3 linked regions of the Homo sapiens genome follow. The protein of the gene in region 2 interacts with the protein of the main gene of each other region in a pairwise test. Each region holds a gene or a part of one and is shown on either strand. Other genes may lie near its edges.

The links. The genes of interacting proteins can lie anywhere in the genome.
Region 1: the proteins of SPATC1L (region 2) and PHF11 interact in binary tests that used the Homo sapiens proteins (3 or more experiments, as listed by UniProt).
Region 3: the proteins of SPATC1L (region 2) and ZBTB8B interact in binary tests that used the Homo sapiens proteins (3 or more experiments, as listed by UniProt).

The regions. Positions count from the first base shown.
Region 1 is NC_000013.11:49,492,115-49,498,955, forward strand, and holds the start of PHF11 (PHD finger protein 11), read left to right. Parts: upstream 1-3,838; 5' UTR 3,839-3,887; coding exon 3,888-3,981; exon of another isoform or gene 3,982-4,368; intron 4,369-4,941; exon of another isoform or gene 4,942-5,103; intron 5,104-6,841. UniProt on the Homo sapiens protein: Positive regulator of Th1-type cytokine gene expression.
Region 2 is NC_000021.9:46,167,445-46,174,468, forward strand, and holds part of SPATC1L (speriolin-like protein), read right to left. Parts: intron 1,215-7,024; coding exon 864-1,214; intron 1-863.
Region 3 is NC_000001.11:32,460,941-32,468,074, reverse strand, and holds the start of ZBTB8B (zinc finger and BTB domain-containing protein 8B), read right to left. Parts: upstream 3,004-7,134; 5' UTR 2,970-3,003; intron 1-2,969. UniProt on the Homo sapiens protein: May be involved in transcriptional regulation.

The DNA of each region.
Region 1 (6,841 bases), on a different chromosome or scaffold from region 2:
CAATTTATAATTTATTTACAAATTATATATTAAGAGAAACAAATGTCATAACAGAACTCAGCTGTTTCTAATTGCTTTTGTGACTGTTACCTTTTAGTTCATGCCCCCCCAAAGAGCTAAATTTCACATTTTTACCTACAAAATTGATTTTTAATTCCTGGCAAATAATTTACCATTATGAGCTACAAGGTGGGCAACAGCGCCTGAGGATCTAATTTTATGCATATTACTCCCAAGTATTTTAACACTTGTTGGAGAAGCAATATCTGGATCGATAAAACACTGTCCCATCAACCATTTGAGTGGGGAGAGGGAGAAGCTCTTCTGTAAGTAAGATTCTGGCAAGCTCTTTGAAATGAGTCTTCTTTCCCACAGATTTTCTCTACTCTTTCTATACAAACAGATAGGAGAAGAGGGAATAGAAACCTGGAGGAACTTGAATATTTTTGTTCTAGATAGAGATACAGTTACTGAAAAGGAAACCTAGAAAGTAGTCACACGTTGCTTATTTAGGCCAGAAGTAATTGTACTGGGCAAAAATTTCACTTAAAAAACACAAGAAGTCCAGGTATGGTGGCTCAGACCTGTAATCCCAGCACTTTGAGAGGCCGAGGCAGGTGGATTACTTGAGCCTAGGGGTTCAAGACCAGCTTGGGCAACATGTCAAAACCCTGTCTCTACAAAAAATACAAAAATTAGCCTGGCATGATGGCATGTGCCCGTAGTCTCAGCTACTCAGGAGTGAGGTGGGAGGATCATTTGAGCTCAGAAGGTCAAGGCTGCAATGAGACATAATTTCACCATAGTACTTCCAGCCTGGGCAATAGAGCAAGACTCTCTCTCAAAAAAAACAGCACACACACACACACACGAAAACAATTCTGAACTATGAAATCTGAAACAGCCCCTTGGTATCTCCTGGGCATGATTTGCAAATCTTTTTTTTTTACAGAAAAAAGGCAAAGAGTAAGCACTTTGCCATAGGTTACTTGGCCGTGATCATCTATCTAGTGGAAAAGGGGACTGGGAAGCCCAAGCAGACTGGGAAACCAGACAGCTAGGAAAAGGAGCAAAACATAGCCCAGCAACCTACAGATGAAGAAAGTTGAGAAATCCATTTATTCACCATAGAGACGCAGGAATTTCAGGCAATGCACTAAAATGAAATGGGGGAAAAAAGCTTGATCAGTATGGGAACCATTTTTGTGCAAAAGGGAATATTATGGATCAGCCAGTATTTCTTTGAGCTCTGCCTGTGGAGTCCATTTGACCTTTAGAAATATGAGGTATTCTGTCAGTTTTATCTTCTTGGAGAAATTTCTCCTAAAATCTTGATTTGCTTTAGTCTGGACTGGTTCATAGCCATCATCTTCCATCAGTACCCCAGAGATTCACTTTGTCTCTTATGTGGGATCTGTTTCCAGTTAGATGCCATTATTTTCCTTTTCCTTGGTTTACTCTTCCACATATTGGTAAAGCTCTTCCAATAGCTTTTGGAAAGGAAAAATGAAAAGTAAATGTTTTGAATCTCTGTGTGTTTGACAATGTCTTTATTTTACCCTTATACCTGATTGCTGTTTTGGTTGGCAAGGTATAGGATTCTTTAGTGGTCTCCATGCCCAGTTTTGAAGACATCTGCTAGCTTTCAGTGCTGTTGCTGTGGAGTCTGAAAATCTGTCTTCTGGCTTCCAGGGTGACTACTGGAAATTGAATGCCATTCTGTTCCTTCTCTTTTGCATATATAATCCATTTTTATCTCTCTTGAAGCTTATAGGTTTATCTTTGTCTCAATGTTCTGTCCCTGTTAAGAGTCCATTTTCATCCTTTGTACTAGGTGCCTGGTGGGATCATTCCGTCTGAAACTAATGATTTCCCATCTCTTCACTGTTTCTGGAATTCCTGTTTTCCAGATGTTAGACCTCCAGAATTTGATCTCTAATTTTCCTATCTTTTCTCTTAACTTTCAGCTCTGTCTTCTTGCTAGGACCTTTTCCTAGGAGCATTTCTCAATTTAATCTTCCAGTTCATCTGTTGCATTTTATTTTTCTAGTCTCATATTGTCTCATATTTTTAATTTCTAAGAGCTCCCCTTCTCCGAATATTCTTTTTTTTTAATAGCATCCTATTTTGGCTCATGGTTGCAGTATTTTATCTCCTTGAAGATGTTTGTGTGTTTATGTATGTATATGCACACACGTATACATACACATACAGGCATGCATCTCTGTATTCTTTCGGCATAATCTGTGTCCTCCAGGGTTTGTTTCTTTGTTTCCCCTGTATGTTTGTTTTGGTCGTTCACATTATAGGCTTTCCTCAGAGTTAATGGTCTTGGTAGTCTACTCATATTTAAGTGTGGAACACCAAAAAGCTTACTATAAGCTGAGAGTGTGGTAAAGGGCTCTTTGTTTTACTATGACCTACCTGAGCTATCTTGCTGGGGAACACCCTAATGTCAGTCTCTTTATAAAGGGCCTTTCATTTTGGCCTGGCAAGAAATACTCTTTCATCCTCCTGCATGGAGGGCAAAAAAAAATTTAAAAATTGGCTGCTAGGGTCTGTCTGCTCACTTCCCTGTTTTGCAGACCCCACACTCTTCTGCAATTCATTTCATAGTTGTCAAGACTATACAAATTGTCCTTTTTAATGTTCTCTCTTCTGCTATCCCTAGTTGGCAGTCTTCCTCTTTACAACCTGCTGAAAGTGGAAGACCTCCAGTTTTCCTTTAATTCCTCAGCAAACCACCAACTATTATATGTCTTTTTTCCAGAACAACTTATTTTTTAACTATAATTATATGCATTTATGTTAGATTCACTGAAAACCTCATCTTGTATGGTGCTCTGTACCCTATGGGTGCTAAATAAAGGCTTGCTACTGGCAACTGGATTTAGGATCGGCTAATTCTGCGTCCTTTTAAGATATGCTTATTTAAGCCAAACTCGGTATGATAATTTTTTTTTTTTTTTTTTTTTTTTTGAGAGGGAGTCTGGCTCTGTCGCCTAGGCAGGAGTGCAGTGGCGCGATCTTGGCTCACTGCAACCCCCGCCTCCCGGGTTCAAGCGATTCTCCTGCCTCAGACTCCCGAGTAGCTGGGATTACAGGCGCCCGCCACCAAGCCCGGCTAATTTTTGTATTTTTAGTAGAGACGGGGTTTCACCATGTTGACCAGGCTGGTCTCGAACTCCTGACCTCGTGATTCGCCCACCTCGGCCTCCCAAAGTCCTGGAACTACAGGCGTGAGCCACCGCGCCCACCCGGCCAGTATGATAGTTTTTAGGAGGAACCCTCAGGAGAGTGATTGTTTCTCCCGCTGTGTTGTGGGGGGTGGAGTAGGGAAGCCTGGCGTTTGGGGTTTTTTTGTTTGTTTGTTTTTTGTGTGTGTTTGTTTGTTTGTTTGTTTTGAGACGGAGTCCCGCTCTGTAGCCCAGGCTGGAGTGTAGTGGCGCGATCTCGGCTCACTGCAAGCCCCGCCTCCCGATTCAAGCGATTCTCATGCCTCAGTGTCTGGAGTAGCTGGGATTACAGGCACCCGCCACCATGCCCAGCTAATTTTTGTATTTTTAGTAGAGACGGGGTTTCACCATGTTGGTTAGGCTGGTGTTGAACTCCTGACCTCGTGATCCGCCCTCCTCGGCCTCCCAAAGTGCTGGGATTACAGGCGTGAGCCACTGCTCCCGGCGTTTGGGTTTTTTAAGCTATTCAAATTAAGACTAGACTGGAATCTGGAGCAGTGTGTGTGACAACCCCTCTCTGCACACCCAACTTTCCCCGGGCCGGCTAGTGACTCAAAGCGACAGCCCAGATTTAAGAAAACGAAACCTAGTGCAGCTGGGGCACTTCCGGGATCTCGCTATCCGGCCGCCACCCGCAGCTGCAGCACAGTCATGGCCCAGGCGTCGCCGCCCCGGCCCGAGAGGGTGCTCGGCGCCAGCAGCCCGGAGGCCCGGCCCGCGCAGGAGGCGCTCCTCCTTCCCACCGGTGTGTACCGCGGGGGCGGGCGGGCGGGCGGGCGGGGCTGGGCAGCGACGGGCCCGGTCAAGGGGCCTGCCTTCCGGTCGTGGCCGCATGGGGGCCCGACCTGCCCCTACTCCGGGCCGGGGCCCTAGACGCCGGGGCGGCGCTGGACGAACTTGGCTCACCACTCGCGTGCCTGTTGGTGGGGGAGGGGGCCAGAGGACAGGGCGCGGCCCAGGCCAGTTCCACAGGTGGCTCTGACTGCCCATGGTTTCGCGCGAGTGGTGGGCACGCTTCGGTTTACCTCCCCCGCGGGTGACAGCCCAGTGCTTCCACCACAACCGATGTCAACTCTCCTAGCGCCCCTCCGCTCACCGGTAAACCAGGACAGTGGAGGGGCGCCCTGATGCGGTGAGGCAGGGGGCGGCCCTGAGGGAAGAGCTGGGTCTCACGTTCACGGAGGACGTGACTGGAACCCGTCTCCCCTTCTCCAGTCGTTCCAGTCCTCCCCGGCCCTCTACTTGAGTGGGTGGGTCTTCTGATGGGTTCCTGCCCTTGCGTGTGTGTATAGCTCCAAACGGTGTGCCAGGCTCAGGGCAAGGTCCTGAGCATACAAAGATGAGTTAGGCAGACCCTGCCCTAGAGACTCTACTAGGCAACTTTAATGAGGAGGTCAGAACCACAGAGGTACAGATGAGAGACTCCTGACTCCCAGTCTTCAGGGAAAGCTTTTTGAGGAGAGGATGGCTGGGCTTACCCTTTTTTTTTTTTTTTTTTTTTGAGAGGAGTTTCACTCTTGTTGCCCAGGCTGGAGTGCAAAGGCGCTATCTCGGCCCACTGCAACCTCTGCCTCCCGGGTTCAAGCGATTCTCCTGCCTCAGCCTCCCGAGTGGATGGGATTACAGGCATGTGCCACCACGCCCAGCTAATTTTGTATTTTTAGTAGAGAGGGTTTCTCCATGTTTCATGGGCTTACCTTTAAAGGGCAAGACTCAGCCAAAGGTGGAAAAGTTGAAGGGGTGTTCCCAGCAGAGAGGATGACACAAAGGCACCAAACCACAAAACGTCACACGTAAACATCATACGTGGCAACCACAAGCCAATCAGTTGGATATTTCATTCATTGGTATACATATGGACTGTAAGGTAAGTCACGGGAGATGCGCTTCCATCCTGACCTCTTCCTCAAACTCCAGACTGGTATAACCAACTTCTTCCATTTCTGAAATGATCTCAAACTGAGTATGTCCCAAAGAGAATTCTTGTTTCCTCCACTGTATTCAGGTACTCCAAACCTGCTCAACCACCAGCCCATTCCATTCGCCCAGGTGCTCCTTGCAAAAACCTTAGTGGCTCCTCAGGGCCTCTCTTTCCTCCGGACACCCCTTCTAATGCATCAGTCGGGCCAGCCAGTTCTGTGTTCAGCCTGACTGTATCTGGAGCCTGACTGCTTCTCACCACTTCCATTACTGCCACCCAAGCCTACGCCATCATGATCTTCTGTCTGGACTATTGCTTTCCTGGCTTCTATTCTAGCCTTTAATACAGGCAGGCCTGCAGAGCGGCCAAAATGCTTTTTGAAAAACAAAAAGCAAATGTGATTCTCCTACTCAAAACCCACCAATAGTCTCCCATGACTCTCAGAACAATCTATGAGCCTGGCCTGCAGTTTACCCCATGTCCTTATCTGATTTGACTCCTGCCCATCTTAATGACTCTGCTACCCTGCTACCTTGTAGGTCCTCTAAGCCACCAAAGCTGTCCCTGCCTCAGGATCTTTCCATTTGCTATTCTCTGCAAGGAAAACTCATTGCCACATTATCCCATTTTCAGTTCCCCATCATATTCAGGTGTCTGCTCATATACATCTTCCCTCAACCTTGCCTGCCCATCCTGTCTAAAAGAGCACCCCTTGCCCCTGCTCCTGTCACTCTCTACCTCCTTCTGCTCTATTCTTTCTCTATAGTACTTATCACTACCTGGAAAACAAAACAAAACTTGTTTAATGCCTGTCTCTACCACTGGCCACTGGCATGTAAATTCGTCTTACTCTCTTCTATCCTTAGTGCCTAGACTGGTTGGCCTAGTAGTAGTAGTAGGACATAGTAGGTACTCATTAAATATTAAATAATAGTAAGTCCTCATTAAATATTTGTTGAAGGAATGAATGTACTTGTATATAACACTACGGAGCTTGACTTCTGTAGGTGATGGGGAAATATGAGCAGATGTCCATTTCAGGTAGATCATTCTGACAGTAACATAGTACATTTCCGGTAGATCATTCTGACAGTAACCTAGCACATTTCTGGTAAATCATTCTGACAGTAACCTAGTACATTTCCGGTAGATCATTCTGACAGTAACCTAGTACATTTCCAGTAGATCATTCTGACAGTAACCTAGTACATTTCAGATAGATCATTCTGACTGTAACCTAGTACATTTCCGTTAGATCATTCTGACAGTGACCTGGTACATTTCAGGTAGATCATTCTGACAGTAACCTAGTACATTTCAGGTAGATCATTCTGACAGTAGCATAGTGCATTTCAGGTAGATCATTCTGACAGTAACGTAATACATTTCAGATAGATCATTCTGACAGTAATATAAAGAATGCAGTGGGATCATGACAGGGAAAATAGAGACAAGGACAAGAGATCACTGGAATAGACTAGGTGAAAGACCCTGAGGGTAAGGCAGTCCACCTTCCACACCGCTGCCAGCACTGTCTTTCTCTTAAACACACATGGGCACACACACATATAAACATGTGAGTGCACACACACAGATCAAGTAAGTCATGGTCCTTCCAGTGTTAATAAGCACGTACTGGCTGCAAGTACTACAAAAACAATTTGATGTAATTTAAGCATGAGGG
Region 2 (7,024 bases):
GAAATAAATGAAATTTAAATGAAGAAAACAATACAACAGATCAATGTAACAAAAAATCGGTTATTTGAAAAGATAAATAAAATTGACAGGCCAGGCATGGTGGCTCATGCCTGTAATCCCAGCATTTTGGGAGGCCGAGGCAGGCGAATTGCTTCAGCCCGGGAGGTCAAGACCAGCCTGGGCATCGTAGCAAAATCCCATCTCTACAATAACAAAAACACAAAAACCAAAAAATTAGCCAGGCCTGGTGGCATACACCTGTAGTCCCAGATACCTGGGAGGCTGAGGTGGGAGGCTGGCCTGAGCCTCAGGTGGATATCTACATGCAAACCTCACACCATATATGAAAATTAACTTGGAATTGATCAGAGACCTACATGTAAAACCTAAACTATAAAACTTCTAGAACAACACACAGGAGAGAATCTGTGTGACCTTGGGCTTGGCAAAGATTTCTTAAACTGAACATAAAAAGCATAAAATACAAAAGAAAAATCAATAAATTGGACATCATCAAATTAAACAGTTTTGCTCATCAAAAAACATTATTATGAAAATGAAAAACCATGGAGTGGGAGACCGTATCTGCAAAACATACACCCAAAAAAGGACTCATATCCAGACACATAAAGAACTCTCACAACTTCCCAAGAAGAAGATAAGCAACCCATTTTATCTTTAAAGATGGACAAAAGACTAGGACAGACACAGCCTTGGACCCCAGCCTCCCAGCCTGGCTCTCCTCCCTCCACTCTGTGTGACTGGATGGAGAAACGGCCCTGCCTGACCACCCAGTCATGCCCTCCCCACAGCTGCCAGCCTGCACTGGGGGCCCCCCCAGGTGCCCCCGCACCCGGCCATACCATTGAGGTAGTAGCTCCTCCTGGTCCTGTCCCCGGTGGGCAGGCTGCTCTCCGAGAAACACACCTTCTTAGGCCGGACCATCTCCCTGGGCTCCAGCAGGGTCTTGTCCACCAGTGAGTCTTGCAAGGGGCTCAGGAGCGGGGACAGCTTCCTGTCGGTGCCTCGGTGGCTATGTGGCTCTGGGGGACTGAGGAAGGCCTTGAAGGGTGCCTGGGAGGGGGCTGCACAGCCCGGGGAGGTGTCGTCCTCGCTGGACAGGGGGGCATGTGAGCACAGCAGGTCCTCCAGGGAGGATGTCTGCAGTTGGGAGGGCGTGTCGGCAACACTCGTGAACCTTCCGAAATCTGGAACTGAGGCGGGGAGGAAAGGGATGAGAAATCAGGCTGATGCTCCTAAAACATTCCTGGGAAGTATAAAGAACATGTTAACAACCCCTATGCACCCCACCCCAAGCTTCAACACCTGCCGGGGTTTCCCTGGCTTCAGAGCATCCTCCTTCCCCTCAGGCCTCAAGTGTAAAAGGAGGAGCTGGATGTGGTGAAGTGGCCACAGGTGCCCATCCTGCCCGTGGGAGCACTGCGTCTATGGGCACAGCAAGCGGGCAGGCCTCCGTGTGCCTCCTGCCTGCCTGTGTGCCCACACACACTGGAGAATGACTTTTATATGCTTAAGTTGTACATAAATGGTAGCACCCTACACATTTTATTCTGCAACTGAACTTTTTGCTGCTGCATTATCTCTTTGAGATTTATCCACCCTGAGCCATCTGGTAGCTACCTGGTTCATTTAACTGTTTCCTGGCAACTCTGTACACATGAGCACACATACAGACACACACACTGAATTTTTAACCCTTGCCCTATTGATGGACAGGGCCTGTTTCCATGTTTCCGTGCAAACACACAGCTGTAATTGGCCTCCCGGGAGGAGCCTTCTGCTCTGTGAGCATCCTCTGTGGATGAGGAGGAGCCCCCTGCTCTGTGAACATCCTCTGTGGATGGGGAGGAGCCTCCTGCTCTGTGAGCATCCTCTGTGGATGGGGAGGAGCCCCCTGCTCTGTGAGCATCCTCTGTGGATGGGGAGGAGCCCCTGCTCTGTGAGCATCCTCTGTGGATGGGGAGGAGCCCCTGCTCTGTGAGCATCCTCTGTGGATGGGGAGGAGCCTCCTGCTCTGTGAGCATCCTCTGTGGATGGGGAGGAGCCCCCTGCTCTGTGAGCATCCTCTGTGGATGGGGAGGAGCCTCCTGCTCTGTGTACATCCTCTGTGGATGGGGAGGAGCCCCCTGCTCTGTGAGCATCCTCTGTGGATGGGGAGGAGCCCCTGCTCTGTGAGCATCCTCTGTGGATGGGGAGGAGCCCCCTGCTCTGTGAGCATCCTCTGTGGATGGGGAGGAGCCCCTGCTCTGTGAGCATCCTCTGTGGATGGGGAGGAGCCCCCTGCTCTGTGAACATCCTCTGTGGATGGGGAGGAGCCCCCTGCTCTGTGAGCATCCTCTGTGGATGGGGAGGAGCCCCTGCTCTGTGAGCATCCTCTGTGGATGGGGAGGAGCCCCCTGCTCTGTGAGCATCCTCTGTGGATGGGGAGGAGCCCCTGCTCTGTGAGCATCCTCTGTGGATGGGGAGGAGCCCCCTGCTCTGTGAACATCCTCTGTGGATGGGGAGGAGCCCCCTGCTCTGTGAGCATCCTCTGTGGATGGGGAGGAGCCCCTGCTCTGTGAGCATCCTCTGTGGATGGGGAGGAGCCTCTGCTCTGTGAGCATCCTCTGTGGATGGGGAGGAGCCTCCTGCTTTGTGAGCATCCTCTGTGGATGGGGAGGAGCCCCTGCTCTGTGAGCATCCTCTGTGGATGGGGAGGAGCCTCCTGCTCTGTGAGCATCCTCTGTGGATGGGGAGGAGCCCCCTGCTCTGTGAACATCCTCTGTGGATGGGGAGGAGCCCCCTGCTCTGTGAGCATCCTCTGTGGATGGGGAGGAGCCTCCTGCTCTGTGAGCATCCTCTGTGGATGGGGAGGAGCCTCCCTGCTCTGTGAGCATCCTCTGTGGATGGGGAGGAGCCTCCTGCTCTGTGAGCATCCTCTGTGGTCCAGGAGGAGCCTCCTGCTCTGTGAACATCCTCTGTGGATGGGGAGGAGCCTCCCTGCTCTGTGAGCATCCTCTGTGGATGGGGAGGAGCCTCCTGCTCTGTGAGCATCCTCTGTGGTCCAGGAGGAGCCTCCTGCTCTGTGAACATCCTCTGTGGATGTGGAGGAGCCTCCTGCTCTGTGAGCATCCTCTGTGGTCCAGGAGGAGCCTCCTGCTCTGTGAACATCCTCTGTGGATGGGGAGGAGCTTCCCTGCTCTGTGAACATCCTCTGTGGATGGGGAGGAGCCTCCCTGCTCTGTGAACATCCTCTGTGGATGGGGAGGAGCCTCCTGCTCTGTGAGCATCCTCTGTGGTCCAGGAGGAGCCTCCTGCTCTGTGAACATCCTCTGTGGATGGGGAGGAGCCCTCTGCTCTCTGAACATCCTCTGTGGATGGGGAGGAGCCTCCCTGCTCTGTGAGCATCCTCTGTGGATGGGGAGGAGCCTCCCTGCTCTGTGAACATCCTCTGTGGATGGGGAGGAGCCTCCTGCTCTGTGAACATCCTCTGTGGATGGGGAGGAGCTTCCCTGCTCTGTAAACATCCTCTGTGGATGGGGAGGAGCCTCCTGCTCTGTGAACATCCTTTGTGGATGGGGAGGAGCCTCCTGCTCTGTGAACATCCTCTGTGGTCTGACGCTGGGCTCAGGTGTGTTCACTTTCTTTGCTTTCCACACCAAGGGGGAGGGTCCATGCCCACCAACACCTCCTGGCCCCACACCCTCATGAGGACTGAATATTCCCCAACCAGGCTGATGAGGTCATGTGGCATTTCCCCAATCCCTGGCCAAATTTAGCTTATCTATGCCTTTATGGCTTATGAAATTCTATTCTACCTCCATGTCATGTGTATTCTCCTAGCAATAAAGCAAATACATATTAGAGAAAGTGTTCGGAGCCATATCAAAAAATTATACCTTAAAATGTGCCTACTGGAGCTTGCAGTGAGCCAAGATCGTGCCACTGCAATCCAGCCTGGGCGACAGAGCAAGAATCCATCTCAAAAAAAAAAAAAAAAATGTGCCTACAAAGGAACCAACTAATCTTCCCTCTGAAATGTTTTCCAAGGAAAAAAAGTTCGAAAGAAGCAAAGTCATCAGCGTGTGCCCGGCCTCCTGCCACGTGGGAGGCCTGGAGTCCTCAGGCTTCACAGACCCCCCACCCCAGACACTTTTCAAATTATAAAAGAATATTATGTACAATTATGTATTAATTAAAATTTCAATAAAAGGAGATAGCCTGGAAAATTACTTTCAAGTGACTCAATAAGAAGTAGAAAACCTAAATGAACCAATACACAAAGAAGGAAAATCTAAAAGTTATGAAATGATTATTCCCCAGAGGGCTGCAGGCCTGGATGGTCTGTGGGTGAGTGTGCCAAGTTCCCAAACAAGTCATAATCCCGACATCATACAAATGAGGCTGGAACCGTAGAACAGGTTAAAAGATGCTCAATTAGGTTTCAAAATTTGTCACAACTCTGATGTCAAATTCCTACAAAGATAACCCCCAGAAAAAAAAAAAAAAAAAAAAAAACCATGGCCAGGCCAAAAATAATTGCACAAAGTCTCATCCAAACATGATCAAGAACACACAGCACGAGGCAGGAGTGTGCACAGAGCATGAGGCAGGAGTGCAGAGCATGAGGCGGGGGATGCACAGAGCATGAGGCAGGAGTGCAGAGCATGAGGCGGGGGATGCACAGAGTGTGAGGTGGGGGATGCAAAGAGCGTGAGGCGGGGGATGCACAGAGCGTGAGGCGGAGGATGCACAGAGCGTGAGGCGGGGGTTGTGCAGAGCACAAAGCGGGGAGGTGTGCAGAGCACAAGATGGGGGTGGAGAGCATGAGGCAGGGGTGTGTGCAGAGCACGAGGCGGTGGGGTGGAGAGCAAGAGGCAGGGTGTGCAGAACCCAGTGGCTGTGCAGCGTAGCAAGATACCAGATACGGTCCCTGGCAAGAAGCTGAGATACCTCCACTGGTACAGAGATAGGCTCACAAACACCGAACAAGATGAGCCATTTCTCAAATTTTCTGTTTTCCAAAAATAAGAACAGGAAGGACTCTTCCACAGCATCCAGCCTGTGCAAACCTCCCTCCTCTGGGCAGATGGGACCGTTGGTCCTTCCCACAGCTGGTCAGGAGGACCAGGATGCGGCCAAAACCCTCTCTCACCTTCCCTGGAGGAGGCCCCATGAAAGTCAAGGCCAAGGCCCGAGTTCTGAGTAATAAGGACAAAGACAGAAATAAGAAGTTCATGTGGATTGGAAGGGCGGGATGGCCGGCCAGATGCAGCCAGATGATACAGCTCCCACGGAGGGCCTGAGATGACTGGTGAGCTTCTAACACATCTTCAGAGGGAAGGTGCTGAGGGCAGATGGAGGGAGCACACAGAAGCTGGGCTGAAGGGGAGAAAGCTGGGAACCTGCCTGGGACTACTGAGCACTGGTGCTCATTTTTGGACCCACAACAGCTCTGGGGAAATGGGGGAGTTAAACGGGCAAGGAGCAACCCACTGTTGCCATGGGCCTCTGGAACCCCAGCTGGGGGAGACCCCTTGCCCACCATGGACACTCTAGTTGGCAGGGAGAGCTGCTTAGAGAAGTGATGGGGGCAGCAGCCAGCTGAAGCAGAACCCAGAGGGTCTGGTGCAGGAACACAGCCAGGGACGGCCGTCCCCCAGGCTTGATTTGCTCCCACAGGAGACTTTGGACCTAGGGGAACTGTCAGACCTGTTCTCTGCAGGGTGGTCTTACCCATCAGATGGGACCAGTCCAACCTGAGCACCCCTTCGTCTGCTGGCCTCTCCTGGGGCCCCAGCCTGGCCATGCCTGCTTGCAGGGCAGTCTTGGGTGCCCTGGGGGTCTTCACCATAGCTTCTGTGCCAGCAGACTGTGCCTGGCCAGTGGAGAGCTCCAGTGAGACAGCCCCGACGGCCACACACCAGCCTGCCTGCTCCCTCCTCATATTGTAGCTTCCCCTGGGCCCAGGCAACTCCCCACATCACTCTGCTGATGTCTGCACAGGTGGGTTTTGATTTCCTTCCCCCACCAGCATGCAGGAGTCCAGTGGGCCTCCCCTTTCCCTACAGACTTCCATTGCAGGTGAAGCCTTGGCAGACACAGAGCCAGCAAGCCCCATACCCGCCAGAACCCTGCCTTTGACCTAACACTGAGCAGAGAACAGTGGATCCTCCCCCACCCTGAGCGATCACTCCTGCTTGCAGGGCACAGAAAAGGCACCTAGACCTGTGCCAACCAGCACCCCACCCATGCCTATAGTACCTCCAGAGTAACTGCACACAGTCTCCAACAGGAGCCCCCCATCCCCACCCCAGCTGCTTTGCCTCCACCACTGTGGTGAACCCCCACAGGAAGGCAGGCACTCTGCATCTGCCAGCCACTCTGCTGTAGCTGCAGTACCTCAGCCCCCCAGTGCAGTGGATTCCAAACCTCAAGGAGCCAGAGAACAAAGTCAGGGCCCAAAACAAGTCCCCCAGAGCTAGAGCATGCAGAGTCCAGGAGTTGGCAGCTGGGCACTGGCCCCTTAAATATTCCATAAATGAAGCCAGTTGGCTGAATCCACCTTATACCACAATCAAAACCTCAAGGTCATCAAACAGACCAGGCATGGTGGCTCATGTCTGTAATCCCAGCACTTTGAGAGGCTGAAGCAGGTGAATCACTTGAGGCCAGGAGTTCAAGACCAGCCTGGCCAACATGATGAAAACCCATCTCTACTAAAAAATAGAAAAATTAGCCAGGCATGGTGTTGGGTGCCTATAATTCCAGCTACTTGGGAGGCTGAGGCAGGAGAATCACTTGAACCTAGGAGGCAGAGGTTGCAGTGAGCCGAGATTGTGCTACTGCACTCCAGCCTGCCTGGGAGACAGAGCAAGACTCTGTCTCAAAAAACAAAACAAAAAAAAAAAAAAAACAGAATGGCAAGCTAGATAAAGAACCAAGACCCATTGGTATGCTGTCTTCAAGAGACCCATCTCACATGCAATAACACAAATAGGCTCAAAATAAAGGCATGGAGAAA
Region 3 (7,134 bases), on a different chromosome or scaffold from region 2:
GTGTGATCTCGGCCCACTCTGACCTCCGCCTCCCTGGCTAAAGTAATCATCCTACCTCAGCCTCCCGAGTAGCTGGGACTACAGGTACCCACCCCCACGCCAGGCTAATTTTTTTTGTACTTTTGGTAGAGACAGGGTTTTGCCATGTTGCCCAGGCTGGTCTCGAACTCCTGGCCTCAAGTGATCTGCCCCCCTCAGCCTCCTAAAGTGCTGGGGTTACAGGTGTGAGACACCACACCTGGCCTCTGAGTTGGGTTTTCTATTTCATGCAACTGGGAGACTCCTAACTGACTGATTCCACTACCCTTGGTTAACTCCTGTTTATTATTTATGTCCTGGCCCTTCTCTGTCAATGAACTACAAGCCCTTTGAAAGCATGAGCCATGTCTTATTCAATTTTATATCCCTTACAGTATCTGGCAGAGTGCTTTGGACAAAATAGATTTGTTAAGCAAAAAAGGAATATTCATTTCTTAACTGCTTAGTAGATAAACTATAAACCAAGTTTAAAATCCACTTGGGGCCGGGTGTGGTGGCTCACACTTGTAATCCCAGCACTTTGGGAGGCCAAGGTGGGTAGATCACCTGGGGTCAGGAGTTCGAGACCAGCCTGGCCAACGTAGTGAAACCCCGTCTCTACTAAAAATACAAAAAAATTAGCTGGGCATGGTGGCGGGCACCTGTAATCCCAGCTACTCGGGAGGCTGAGGCAGGAGAATCACTTGAACCCAGGAGGCGGTGGAGGCGGAGGCTGCAGTGAGCAGAGATTGTGCCACTGCACTCCAGCCTGGGCGATAGTGCGAGACTCCATCTCAAAAAAAAAAAAAAAAACAAGTGTGTGGAGGGACTTTCGCCTTTCATTTTAAACCTTTCTGATAGAATGTTTTACTATGTGCATGTATTGCTTTTCTTTTCTTTTGAGACGGGGTCTTACTTTGTTACCCAGGCTGGAGTGCAGTCCATGATCACAGTTCACTGCCGCCTCGACCTCCCAGGCTCAAGCAATCCTCCTACCTCAGCCTCCCAAGTAGCTGTGACTACAGGCATGCAGCACCACACTCAGCTAATTCTGAAAACATTTTTTTGTAGAGATGGGGTCTCACTATGTTGCCCTGGCTGGTCTCAATGGTCTTGAACTCCTGGACTCAAGTGATCCTTCTGCCTTGGCTTTTTTCTTTGTTAACTAAGAAAAAAAGGAGGCAGGGCAGAGGGGTAAGGAGTTGGTAAGCCAGGTAGATAAATATGTAAGTACGCACAACACTTCTTAACTTGTAGTATGGTCTGATCTATAGGGGCTCTTCCCAGGGCACTTCCGTCTTTCACTGGAAAAGCCTCCTTTCCAGAAATAGCACCTAAAACCAATTTCTTTTGGCTTTCTTACTGAAATTATTTTTTATTCTATTGCAATTATTTTTATTCTACTTCCTGACGTTGCAAAAGTCTATCCGTATAGTATTTTCTTCAAAATTTTCCCCAATCCTGTACTTGGTATATATTGTGTAAATATTTATTTATATCACCCCCATTTGCCTGAAGTGCTCTGCTGCCCCGGGAAGTGCTGAGGATCACCACTTATCCCAGAAGAGCAGCTCTTAGGGCAGACTGCTCTCAGAAGCACATTTATCCGCACTCTGGCAGGGAACCTCCCAACCATCCCACGGTTCCAACTCAATTCAACGGTTACCGGCTACATACAATGCCTGACACAAGGAAGATGCCAGGAATAGAAAAATGAACCAAGTATAGTGCCTGTCCTCCAGGAGACAGCAGATGCCAACACAACTACCTGCAATACAAACTCTCATATACCCTTGAGGGAGTCCTAGCCAGATCACACAACTGTCTCTGTTCAGAGGCCAAAAGCAGCCTTGAATTCCACCTCCGACCCTTTCTGACAAGACTCCTCCAGTCCCACCAACCTGAGAATAACAAAAACCTGCTCCTCAATTTTAGTAAATATTAAGCACTATTCCTTATAAAACACTGTACAAAGTACAAGCATATTCATTTTACTTTTTAAATTAAAATTTTTAAAAGGCACGGTCTTGCTCGGTTGCCCAGGTTGGAGTGCACGATCCTACCTCAATGCAGCCTGGAACTCCTGGGCTCAAGAGATCCTCCCAACCTTAGCTTCCCGAGTAGCAGGGACTACAGGTGCGCGCCACCATGCCTGGCTTTTACAAGCACATTAGTTTTCACCTCACAATAATCCAGTACGACAGATACTCTAACTACATCCTCTTTTTCAGAGGAGGAACTGAGATTCAAAGATGCAGATAACATCACCAAGTTAGTAATAGAACAGAGATCCGACTGACTCCCGGGTTGACATCCTTAACCACTATGCTAACCGGCCTCCTCAAACCCTCCAGGACACGATGCGACAGGTTGGGGAAGTCACTCCTTTCTTTTAGGCATGGATCGGAGGAGAAGGACACTGGAGAAGTTTCCATTTCCATACGAAGAATTTCAGGGTCAACTGCATCTAAACTGCTCGCAAGACAGACCCTCCCCCGTCCAGCATCAGACGACCTGCAGAGAGGCCACCAGAACCAGCTACAGGGCACGGCCCCCGAGGGTGGGACCCCAAGGCCTAGCCCCTCCCATGGCCTCCCGCGGACAAAGTGGCCATCGCTGCCGCTGGCACTTCTCCAGTGTGGCCGAGCCCCCCACGCCTGGGCACCATTCACCGTGGAAGTAGTCGGCGCCGCGACCCCCGGCTGGACGACGCGGAGGACACCCAATGACAGGGAAGCTGGGGCCCCACGGCCGCGCCTGCCCCTCCCCACGCTAGAAGGGCTCGCGGGGCGGAGGTCCCAGGAGTTGCCAGGGCCAAGCGGTCCGAAGGAGGATGACTGAGTGGGGGCAACCCTGCCCGCTAACCCCAATCTCCAGCCAGCCTCCCGGGTGCTAGGAATCCTCCCCAAACCAACGAAAGCGGCAGCGCCAACCCGCTTCTTCGCGCTCACCTTCCAGCGGGTTCCAGCAGCGCAGCCACGGAGCACCGCGCACCGACACGCCCCCCTTTCATTCACCTGGCGCCCTCCGATGAGAGGCGGGGCGGCTGGCCAATCGCGGGAGCGCCTGGCCTCGGGAAGGCGGGCCCTTCGGCCAGCAGGGTGGTCAATGGCGCTGGTGCCCCTCGGAGGATGCGCTCTGAAGGCGCTGGTGCTCGCAGGGTGATGGGAGTTGTGGTCTCAGCGCTGGCTTTTCGGGTAAAGATAGAGTGGACAAAACTACAAGTACCAAGATGCCAAAAGGGGCGAGGACCAGTGCTAGCGAAAGGCTGCAGCTCGGTTCGGTCTTTTGAGTCCCACTTGAGGGACCTGCCAAGTACCGGTCTCTTTGTCTGGAGAGCGAAAAGCACGTCGTGGGTATTAATGCAGTCCAGGGAATAAGAGCTTTGACTCATCAGTCCGCACATATTTCACCTACTGGCGCTTTCCGCAAAAATCTGGAAATAAGGGAAATGGTTTAATCGATTCAACAGGTTTTTATTGCATACCCGCGGTTTCTTTCACTGGGTAGTCGTTACAAAAGATAAAAGATTCAGCTCTTCCCTTGACAGGCTCTCCGGTTCATACATACTAGTGAAACGGTTAAATGGCAGTACTAGGTGCTAAGTGACCGTACAGGCGTGTTCTTGTCAGCTGTGAGCAAGACAAGGCAGCTTACCGCTCTCAGGGAGCTTAGTTCTCATGGGGGTGTATTCGTTTGCTAGGGCTGCTGTACCTAAGTATCACCAACCCGGTGGCGTCAATAACAGATCTTATTGTCTGACAATCCTGGGGGCATCTGAAAGCAAGATGTTGGCAGGGTTCTTTCCTTCTGAGCGCTGTGAGGAAACGGTCTCTTCCAGGCTTCTCTCCTGGGCTTGCATATGGCCATCTTCATGTTCACAGGGCATATTCCCTGTATATGTCTCCATGTCAAAATGTCTCCTTTTGGTTGCAGTGAGTCGAGATCGCGCCACTGCACTCCAGCCTGGGGCGACAGAGAGAGACTCCGTCTCCAAAAAAAAAGTATTTTTATAAGGATACCAGTCATATTGGATTAGGGGTTCACTCTATGCCAGTATGACTTTTTTTTTTTTTTTTTTTTTTTTTTTGAGACGGAGTCTCAGACTCTGTTGCCCAGGCTGGAGTGGTGGCGGGTGGATCACCTGAGGTCAGGAGTCCGAGACCAGCCTGGCCAACATGGTGAAACCCCATCTCTACTAAAAATACAAAAATTAGCCGGGCGTGGGCCAGTAATCCCAGCTACTTGGGAGGCTGAGGCAGGAGAATGCTTGAACCAAAGAGATTGCAGTGAGTGGAGATCTGGCCACTGCACTCCAGCCTGGGCAGCAGAGCAAGACTCTGTCTCAAAAAAAAAAAAAAAAAAAAAAAAGGCTACCCCCTTCGCTGAGAGACCCTAATGAGGAGTAGTGAGCCATGCTAAGATAAAACAGAAAACCGGTTGGTACATATCTAAGAAACAGGAGAATGCCATTGGGTTGAGGAAGTGGATGGCAGGTAGACCAGCTTAATGGACGTGCAACCCACGCAGTGGCACAGGCCCGCACACTCAGAAAGGGCTGGTGCTTCCAGGTGAGGTTTTATACTTAACAAAACAAAACAAAAAAAGAGCCAGGTGCGGTGGCTTACACCTGTAATCCCAGCACTTTGGGAGGCTGAGGCGGGCGGATCACTTGAGACCAGCCTGGCCAACATGGCAAAACCCAGTGTCTACTAAAAATACAAAAATTAGCTGGGCATGGTGACACATACCTGTAATCCCAGCTACTCGGGAGGCTGAGGCATGAGAATCACTTGAACATGGAAAGTGGAGGTTGCAGTGAGCTGAGATTGTGCCACTGCACTGTTTCAAGGAGGAGGAGGACGAGGAGGAGGAGAGAGGGAAGAGGGAAGAAGAAGAAGAGGAAGAGGAAGGAGAGGAAGGAGAAGGAGGAGGAGGAGAAGAAGAAGAAGAAGAAAGATTTAATTACTAACAAAAAGAAAATCTAAATAAATATTTTAAAAATTAAAAAAAAGGAAAGGGCTGATGCCTGGTTTAATGCTCTGCCATTGCCCTCTTAAAATTCTTAGTAGTTTTTGAACAAGGAGCTCTGCATTTTCATTTTGCATTGGGCCCCACAAATTATGTAGCCAGTCCAAGCGACAGGAAATATGAATGGATAGAGAAGCAAAGGCCAGATTATGTAGGAATTTGTAGGCCACCTTAAGGAGTTTGGATTTTTTCTTATGAATGTGAAGGGACACCTTCGAAGGATCTTAAGCAGGGAAGAGATAAGATATGATCTCTCCCCTGCTGATAGATGCTGATAACTGGGGATAGGGTAGAGGTGGTAGAGATGGAGGGGTTTGTTTAGGATATATTTTAGAGCTTGTCAAAAATGTAATTGCAGTTCACTCTAAAGATAACTTAATAATTTTAGAAGGTAAAATGTCAGCCAAACACCACTATACTATCTATCAAAGAAAAGTAGTTTACCTATTTCTTGTAAAGCTGGATACCCAGAGAGGGACAGCAGCAGTTACATCTTTCCTGTTAGTGTGGCTGTCCTTGCCACCTGGTTCCCAAAGGCCAGCTCAGGTGCTGAGGACTTTTGATCATCATAGCAGCAGAGAAAGCATCAGAAGTGAGGAGCACCAAGCTTCTCTGGGCTCAGCCTTTTGTATCTTCTTACCTGGGAAGTCATGTCACTGATGCCTTCACCTTAATTATGACTGTACCTGGAACTCACCCTAGTATTCATTCCACATCTCCTGCATCCAGGCTCCAAGTTTCAGGTCCCAAATTTTATGACTATGGCACACGCAACCTGTACTGGATGACCTAGTAACATTCCAGACTGCTAACGTAAAAGGGCTTTTTGGGGTGGCCTGCATAGGACATGCCCCTGACAACTAGGCATAGGAAATGTTAGAGGCCTTATGATCTCTAGATCTGTTGTGGTCTGCTGTGGGACTTACTCTCGCCACCAAGACCAGCACAACCTTTAGTGTTAGATGCTCTGAACTTCAGTATATTTTTCAAGGTTCAGTTAAAACCAACCTGGCTAGTTTAAGCAAAAAGCAACCTGGCTAGTTTAAACAGAAAAGAATTCATATAAGGAATTAAGTAATACAAATTATCAGGGAGGCTAGAGAATGACTCTGCAGGGATGACTCCAAACTGTCCCAACAGGGTAGCTACCCATTTTTGCTGCAATCAGGAAGGTAAGAAATCAGGACATCACCACTGTACCTGTTAAGCTCAACAACACACTGTTGTGGCTGTGATTAAGGGATTGGAAGTCACCATCACTATTGCTGCCCCTGAAACAGGCTCTCGACCCCTACATGGCTAGTGACTGGACCCTGCAACCCTGCTGCAGACACACCTCATACCTTTGCTGCCACACTTCAGCAGCAAGCAGCAGGCGGGTGGCCTCCACTTCATTTCCAAATCCTGGCCATGACATTTTAACTCTCCAGATTCTGCAGCATAGGAAGGGACACTAGAAGGAGATGGGAATGGATGCTGACTGCTAATCGACAGTACCCAGCAGCATGAATGGCACAGCAATGTGTCACTGAATCTAAAACTTAGGACCTCCAGAGCAAAAAATAGAGAATTAAAAATTGCTGGCTGGGTGCAGTGGCTTACGCCTATAATCCCAGCACTAGGAGAACGAGGCAGGTGGATCACCTGAGGTCAGTAGTTCGAGACTAGCCTGACCAACATCGCAAAACCACCCCCCACTAAAAATACAAAAATTAGGCTAGGCGCAGTGGCTCACGCTTGCAATCCCAGCACTTTGGGAGACCAAGGAAGGTGGATCACCTGAGGTCAGGAGTTTGAGACCAGCCTGGCCAACATGAAACGCCTCTCTAATAAAAATACAAAAAAATTAGCCAGGCATGGTAGCACGCACTTGTAGTCCCAGCTATTCGGGAGGCTGAGGCACGAGAATCGCTTGAACCCAGGAGGCAGAGGTTACAGTGAGCAGAGATGCTGCCACTGCACTCCACCCTGGGCAACAGAGCAAGACTCCATCTCAAAATAATAAGTAAATAAAAATAAAAATACAAAAATTAGCTGGGTGTGGTAGCATACGACTGTAATCCCAGCTACTTGGGAGGCTGAAGC